Linked DNA regions of Homo sapiens: region 1 is reported to be linked to region 2. Evidence: microRNA targets listed by miRTarBase, many of them from high-throughput screens and not tested one by one. Region 2 holds a microRNA gene; the other region holds the end of a gene's coding sequence.
Evidence for each region. The annotated mature microRNA hsa-miR-3153 reads GGGGAAAGCGAGUAGGGACAUUU and lies in region 2 at 1,131-1,153, opposite strand. An mRNA with a match to its seed (bases 2 to 7 or 8) in the 3' UTR can be bound and repressed. Matches are read on the target gene's strand: a 7mer-m8 pairs with bases 2 to 8, a 7mer-A1 pairs with bases 2 to 7 and ends in A, and an 8mer does both.

Region 1: the mRNA of METTL1 is a reported target of hsa-miR-3153. The part of its 3' UTR that is shown has no 7-base or 8-base seed match.

Annotation. Positions count from the first base shown.
Region 1 is chr12:57,765,651-57,769,715 of GRCh38, reverse strand. It overlaps METTL1 (methyltransferase 1, tRNA methylguanosine), which reads left to right. Exons shown (of 6, transcript NM_005371.6): 4 at 38-151; 5 at 312-413; 6 at 565-1,245. The coding sequence ends at 720. CYP27B1 (cytochrome P450 family 27 subfamily B member 1) reads left to right here and starts at 2,638. Exons shown (of 9, transcript NM_000785.4): 1 at 2,638-2,869; 2 at 3,519-3,709. The coding sequence starts at 2,675.
Region 2 is chr9:89,309,362-89,313,426 of GRCh38, reverse strand. MIR3153 (microRNA 3153) reads right to left here and starts at 1,202; the gene lies at 1,121-1,202. It overlaps CKS2 (CDC28 protein kinase regulatory subunit 2), which reads right to left and starts at 2,232. Exons shown (of 3, transcript NM_001827.3): 1 at 2,076-2,232. The coding sequence starts at 2,134. It overlaps LOC105376136 (a long non-coding RNA gene), which reads left to right and starts at 2,625. Exons shown (of 3, transcript XR_930101.4): 1 at 2,625-4,061. RefSeq lists enhancers at 1,677-1,726, 2,397-2,686 and a silencer at 2,697-2,926.

The DNA of each region.
Region 1 (4,065 bases), not on the chromosome of region 2:
GCTCTCACAACCCTGTTGGTGTGTGTCTGTCTCACAGCTGACAAAGATGTTCTTCCTCTTCCCCGACCCACATTTCAAGCGGACAAAGCACAAGTGGCGAATCATCAGTCCCACCCTGCTAGCAGAATATGCCTACGTGCTAAGAGTTGGGGTGAGTTGGGATCGGAGGGATGATGGGGTGAGTGGCCTACTCAGGGGCCCTTCACTAAGAATTCAGTGGGGGTGCATTTAGGGACTCACACCACCACTTCCTTCATCTGGCTGCTGACGTTGCATGCAGCCTCCTGTCTAGGGTGATTTTGCCTATGCAGGGGCTGGTGTATACCATAACCGATGTGCTGGAGCTACACGACTGGATGTGCACTCATTTCGAAGAGCACCCACTGTTTGAGCGTGTGCCTCTGGAGGACCTGGTGAGTAGGGGACCTAGAGGAGGTGGAGGCCCTTTCCAGAGTGGTTCTGTATTTGGACTTAACTCAGTGCCAGGAGGATGGGATAGGTGTCTAAGGGCCAGGGGCAGTCTGAACAGTGGGCAAGGACTTATTGGACCCTTCCTTCTCCCAGAGTGAAGACCCCGTTGTGGGACATCTAGGCACCTCAACTGAGGAGGGGAAGAAAGTTCTACGTAATGGAGGGAAGAATTTCCCAGCCATCTTCCGAAGAATACAAGATCCCGTCCTCCAGGCAGTGACCTCCCAAACCAGCCTGCCTGGTCACTGACTGCTTACTCTACCTTAGCTGGACCTCGTCTCCCAGGGATTAGAGAAAAGAGCAGGAGTCCTGGGTCTTCCCAGTTGAGACTGCTGGAGCTGAGACACAGTACTCTCTTAAAGAAGGTGGGGAGCTGCCCAGGGCAGAACCCACTGGTGTTCATGACTACCCCTGGCTCCTCTCACCTTGTCCCTCCACTGCCAACAGAAAACAAAGCAGCTGACTGAGATGGTCAAAGGACTTTGGACCATAGGGGATCTTTGGAAGGCTGTGGGGTCTTGCTCTTCCTTAGCACTCCTTTCTCCTTGTGAGATCTCTCCTCAGCTGGAATGAGGAATGTAGTCCATCTAAACTGCTTGCTAGGCTCAATTACCACTTCTGTTTGCTTTGTGGATCCTGGGATAACATGTATATGTGTACACATGCCTATTCTGCCATTTCTCAGGAAAGGGTGGAGTATGTATCATATGCCTTCTACCATCCTCCTGTCCTCTCCCTGCGTAAGACTTGACCTGGGGAATCTGTGTTCCCTAAGTGTTGTCTCTGGAGAGTCCTTGGGAAGGTGTGGGGGTGGAGACCCTCTCCTTTTTCACATTGACCTTCAATTCCAGAACTTCAGAGCTAGCTGACTGGCACAGAGCCTGATAGAGTTGCAGTGGGGAATGAGGGAGTAAGGAGCAGAGAGGTAAACTGTGGGAGATTCTTTTATTTTAATTTTTTTTAGAGACAGGCCCTCTCTCTGTTGCCTAGGCTGGAGTGCAGTGGTACAATCATAACTCACTGCAGCCTTGACCTCCCGGGCTCATGTAATCCACCTCAGCCTCTCAAGGCACTACAGGCATACGCCACCATGCCTGGCTAATTTTTGTATTTTTTGTAGAGACAGTTCCACTATGTTGCCCAGGCTGGTCTCAGACTCCTGAGCTCAAGCAGTCTGCCCACCTTAGCCTCCCAAAGTGTTGGGATTACAGTCATGAGCTGCCGTGCCCAGCCTAATTTTTAAACTTCTTCTGTAGAGACAGTCTTGCTATGTTGCTCAAGCTTGTCTCAACCTCCTGGCCTCATGCCATCCTCCTGCCTCAGCCTCCCAAAGTGCTGGGATTATAGGCATGAGCCACCACAGGATTCTGAGGCTAAAAGTAGAAAGGAGCTGCTAACCAGAAAGCCCCCCAGAGGAGACCGAGTCAGCTGGGGAATTAGAACATCCACATCCATTTAGCTCCTCTAACACCCCACAGACAATCTCTGAACTTAACTAATGTACAAAAAGTTTCATTTCTGCTTCTCAAGCCCCAAATTCCCATGTCTGGAAGGAGGGGGCTTGTATACCCAAGAGACCCCCTTATCCTCAAGAAAGAAAGATGGAGGTTCTAGGAGCCATTTTAGCCCATTAACCCACCTGCCATCTGCCCAGTATATGTTAGGTACAGGAGGAGGGGGAGGTGTGGCTAGTGCAGGAAAATAATGCAGAGAAGATACAACCCACTAAGCCAAGAATGTGGGGACAGTTACAGCTGTGCCTCCCCTGCTTCCCTTCCTGGAGGAGCTGAAAGATGGGGAATTCCTGAGGATGGGCCTAAAGGGGCTGGGCTCACTGGTAGAAGTGGGAATATCAGAGACTGACTAGTGTAGCTTGGTCACCTAGTCCCTACTAAAAAGCCTTATAGCCTTTCCTAGGATGAGACTTTGAGGCTCCTAGACAAAGGCACTCTCCCAGGAGGAAAATCTTAGGCCCTCCCTCCCATGAGGGTCATTGCAACATGAGACCCAAGGGAGTTGTGAAGTCAGCCCCAGCCCCGCCTACTGTTCCTGGGTGCTAATCCCCAGCACAGACCACTCAGGAGGAGGGATTGGCTGAGGAGCTTGGAGAGGGGGCGTCATCACCTCACCCAAAGGTTAAATAGGGGTTGAGATATGATGCTCAGGAGAAGCGCTTTCTTTCGCGAGCACCCTGAACCAGACCATGACCCAGACCCTCAAGTACGCCTCCAGAGTGTTCCATCGCGTCCGCTGGGCGCCCGAGTTGGGCGCCTCCCTAGGCTACCGAGAGTACCACTCAGCACGCCGGAGCTTGGCAGACATCCCAGGCCCCTCTACGCCCAGCTTTCTGGCCGAACTTTTCTGCAAGGGGGGGCTGTCGAGGCTACACGAGCTGCAGGTAGGAAGGGACGCCTTTCCCGAGACAGAGTGCTGGGGAAACTGGTTTTGACAGCGTCAGAAAGGACTGACTAGTGCAGAGCAAATGTGGGACAGCCAGAGAGAACGGATGCCCATGAAATAAGGAAAAGGCGAGTTGAGGCTGGGGGCGGTGTGGCTACACTCGGGCAGAGCCCGTCCCGACTCTTAGCAGAGGGCGCTGCGAAAGCGCCTTCTCGCTGTCCTGAGGTGTGGAGATCCTGCAGATAAAGTACAAGTGCGCGGGAGGGGGAGGCCGGAGTGGGCAGTACCCTCCGCCTGCTTGCGGCTTAAAGCTACATGGGTTCCTTTTCATTCACTGAGGACTCGTCCTGAGATGGACAGTCCAGACATGGAACTTTTAGAGATTTCTCCTCGACCGAGATGATCAGAGAGGTCCTGAATGTCTGCCTTGCACAAAGTTCCGGTTTTGCCCATCACACTCAAACTTTCTAGGGATGGGAAATGAGAGAGGAGGAGTTTGCAGTATCAAAGGCATACACTAGTTGGGCACCCGAGAAAGAGCAGAAGCTCCCTATTCCCAAGCCCAGTCAACGCCCTTGGCGTGGGCACAGGTCAAGCTGAAAGTCCCCGCCCAGGTATCCAAGTGTCCGCTGTGTCCGCTCCCCCAGGTGCAGGGCGCCGCGCACTTCGGGCCGGTGTGGCTAGCCAGCTTTGGGACAGTGCGCACCGTGTACGTGGCTGCCCCTGCACTCGTCGAGGAGCTGCTGCGACAGGAGGGACCCCGGCCCGAGCGCTGCAGCTTCTCGCCCTGGACGGAGCACCGCCGCTGCCGCCAGCGGGCTTGCGGACTGCTCACTGCGTGAGTCTTCTCTGCCCCCAGAAGCCCAGACGCCCTGCAGCGGCCCTCTCCTGCTGCGGGTCCCGAAACTATCAATCTGGGGGCATGGTGGGAGGTCGGCTGTCCCACTCTACCATTGGGCATCTTGGGGTTCCCATCCCAGTCTGCTTCACCCACACTCAGGTTGAGCCCCAACCTCACTCCCCGCCTACCTCCTTATCCTTTGAGGCCCGAATCCTGGGAACTGGGGGAACCGGAGGAATTGGGCTAGGGTACAAGGATCTGGATGGAATGAATGTAAGGTTCTGTGACTCAAGTTACCCGGGAACCCCGGCCCCTGAGGGCAGGAAATGAGTAAAGAGGAAGGGGGCTGGAAG
Region 2 (4,065 bases):
TAAGGCTGCCCAGAAAAATTAACAGTTTTTCTCTTGTGAAAACAGACTTCCATGATGTGGGGGTGGGGGCACCCACTGTTATGCCCTTAGAAACATTAAGACCCTCACGTAAAAGGACTAGGAAATTAAGTTTGTAATTAAGAAAAATCAAAGAAAGATAGAGATAACTGCACACTGGGAAAAATAAATACTAGCCTTTGAAATTTACATTGCATGCTGCACCATTACATATTAATACAAACCACCCTAGACTCATGCCTTAGTGCTATATTATTACTAGTTTCCCCTTTAAAATTATGTGTGGAAATTACTATCCTGTTTCATAAAGGTTACTGGCTTGGCCAATTAATACCAGCTCTAATTTTTATTGGATTAAAATACATCACTTCAGATATGTAAACTTTCTTCTATACATTACCACACACAAATCATTTGAGTATATTAAAACTAAAAAATCGACCTACTGCCATCAGAAAGAAGTCTGAGAAATAGCTTCATTTATTTTCAATATTATACCCTAAAAGAAACTTGTACCGACCCTTAAATCCTTATCCTAAACACTTGGCACCAGATGTGTTTCAGAATAATTTTCTAGGTTTTAGTAAGATTATTACGGTTTACATTGTGTTCATTATTGGATATCCTCAATAGGGCTCTTGATTAACATCGCATAATTGAACACTGCCAGCATATTACACGAGTATAGTTTATTATTACTATAAGGTTAACACAATCTACTTGAAATTTACCTACAGCCAGAAAAACATGCTATTTTTCTAGCTAGGAATACAAAAGGGTGCAATTACTACTACCCATAGAAATATTCAGTAGTCCTCATGTGAAAACAGACTTCCATGCTACTAGGGAGGGGGAGAAAAAGAGAAACCACCCACTGTTTTGTTCTTTCTTCCTTAAATAGCATTCGGAGAAATCTAACCTACAAAGGCAGCAGACAGAAAACAAGGTCACAATTTGGCCAACGATGGCATGGGCTTTATCTCCCCTAAATCTTGGTAGTATCCCAGAACGCAGCGTTCTAGTCGCTACCTAGTTAAGAAAAAGGGGTTGACTGTTTTCTGAAGCCACGCCCTAAATGAAGTGTCCCGCATACAGTAAGGACAACAAATTTTAAATGTCCCTACTCGCTTTCCCCCAATCTACTTTAATTGGGGGGAAGGGGACAGGGACATTTAAAATTTGTCTAATTTTACTGATCGATTACAGCCACCATGTTCTAGTACGGTGCTTCAGGACTCAAACGCAAAAGTTTCTCAAAGCCCAAAATTTGGCCAGTGTATACTAGCAGAAAATGATGCCCAAAGTCCACTCAAGTTCTTAATCGGCCTTAAAATGAAACTCCTTTAATAATACCCTCAATTGTATGACTGCGGCTAACCTATAATGGCCCAAATCACCATACCCAGTAAACATTTTCGAATCCCCATCAAGCTCATTTTTCGGGGGGTCGCCTCCAAAGCTTATTCTTATACCACTCACTTCAAAAACAAGAAAAAGAAAAGTGTTCCTCTGTGTTAACAGATGAAAATGACCATTTGACCATTCTAAACCACAAACTAGTAAAAGCTGCATCACCCCGTCAGCGACAGGGAAAGTGTGTCACGGTTGCTAAAGGAAAAAGGACGGCACCAGGTGGGTTTTCCTGGACTGGTTCAAAGAACTGGAACTGAGACCAGCTACTGAACGGCCTAATTACTTCGGCCACGGCCGAGAAAAAAGTGACGGGATGGTCACTCCGCGTCGCCGAGGACCCCATGACCCCCAAGTTGCGCCGGTTCCTACCCAGGTACTAAATGCGGCCCGGTGGGCACTCTTCCCTCACCCTCCGCGCACACCGAACAAAGGCCCAACCGGCCCGGCGCGGCCAGGCACCCAACCATGTCCGACTGCGCGGGGCGCCAGGTGGCCGCGACCCCAAACCCCGGCCCTCGCCCTCCGGCCCCGGGCTCCGCCCCCCAGGCCCCGGCCCCCACCCCCGACCCTACTATGCCTGGGTCGCCCCGCCCGCGGGGGCCCCGGCTGAGGGAGCCGGCTCGGGGTCTAAGAAAGGCGCCCACCGGTACTCGTAGTGTTCGTCGAAGTACTTGTCCGAGTAGTAGATCTGCTTGTGGGCCATCCTGCTGGCGCGCTGCAGAAAATGAAACGAGAGCGCGAAGAGCGGGCGCAGCAGACAAAACCACGTCCAGCCCAGGCAACAACTCGCCGGAGACTAACGACCGCAGTCCCAACGATCCGGATTTGAATCCGACAGCCCGCCGCCGATTGGACAGCAGCGCCGACCAATCACCTTCTGCGGAAGTCGGCCGGCTGCCAGCCTATCGTCGCCGCCGCCTCGCAAAGTCCGCTTCCTGGGTCAGCCAATCAGAGATCTGTTGCGAGGTTGCCCGAGGGAAGATAGGTACGTCACGGGGGTGGCAGGGCCCTTAACGGGCAGGGGCGTGGCCAGAGGAGGGCGAAGTCGGGACGTTAAGGGCCGCAGAGCGCGTGCGCAGGAACGTGGAAAGTTCCAGGACACGGAACCGTTGGGACGGAGGACCTGAAGGTGGAGTGAGGTATCACGGGGTTTGGTGATGACGTAGTCGGTCGAGGCCGGAAGCGTGGGCCACAGGGCTTTGAGCGGAAGCTGTCGACCTTGCACGGTGATGGCGCTCCTCGTGATCCCTTGTATCCCCTCAGGCTCGAGCCAGGAGCCTAGGTCCACTTTGAAAAGTAGTAAAAGGCAGAAAGGTTCTGCGGTGTGAGGGGGAGGGCGGCTTCGTGGTCGGCTGGGTCGGGGGAGCGCCGGGCGGCCGCGGCGTGGCTGTGTCCGGGGCTGCCCTGCGCAGCCGGCCGTTTCGCCGCCTGGTGCACTTGCTGAGCTTCCGGCCTGGCCCGTCGCGGGGCTCCTGGCGCCCCCCTAGACGACTGTGTGGAGAATGGAGCCTGCGGAGCCACGCGTAGAGAGAGGCCCGGAGCCGGCGCGGTGGCGGCGGGCGCCAGTGGTCCCAGCCACTCGGGAGGCCGAGGTGGAGTGTCGCTTGAGCCCAGGAGTTCCAGACAGGCCTGAGCAACAGAGCCAGACCCCGTCTCCACAAAGAAAGAAACAAATGGGCCAGAGACCCAGAATGCTTTCTGTAGCCTAACCTAATGTTCAAAACCAGGGCAGACCCAAGCCATGGAAAGCTTGAGGGAATAAAATAATATTCTGCTGCGGCCAAGAATAACAATGCTAATTCCTGGATAAGGGGATTTAAAATGATGTTTAACAACTTCTGGTCTTTTAATATTGACCCAAGTTTAAAAACATGTTCATATAAAAAAGTTACTGGAAGAAATTTATAAATGTAACTGGTGGTTATTTTTAGATGACAGAATTAAAAGTGATCTTTTTGGTATTTTTTCCACAACGAGCACGTGTCATTTTTATGTTAATTTCATTTTATGCGAAATGCTCCAGCGCAGTACAGGCTAGTGGGTTCAGGGTGGCTGTGACTAAGTAATGTAGATGGGGTACCTTAGACAAAGTTTCCAGACTAGAGGCTGGAAGTAAGAGGTCCGGGTGCCCTTTTCCACACTGCAGACCACGGACTTTTCCGGTTTCTGAACAAGTGAGACAGGCCGGCTAAGGACATTTATAATCTCCATGGGTGAGGGCCCCACCCTCATGACCATCTAATCTTGATTACCTCCCGAAGGCCCCACCTCCTAACTTCCTAATACAATCACTTCTTGGGGGAAGAGGGTGTTTGGAATTCCACCCCCCGCCCTTTTTTTTTTTTGGAGACAGTCTCACTCTGCTGCTCAGGCTGGAGTGCAGTGGTGTGATCTTGGCTCACTGCGACCTCCCCCTCCCAGGTTCAAGCCATTCTGCCTCAGCCTCCAGAGCAGCTGGGATTACAGGCCCAGCTAGTTTTTGTATTTTTAGTAGAAACGGGTTTTCATCATTTTGGCCAGGCTGGTCTCGAACTCCTGACCTCAAGTGAACTGCCCGCCTTGGCCTCGCAAAGTGCTGGGATCGTCAGAGGCAAGTGAACCAGAGCACCTTCATCTTAAACAGGAGCTGGGTAA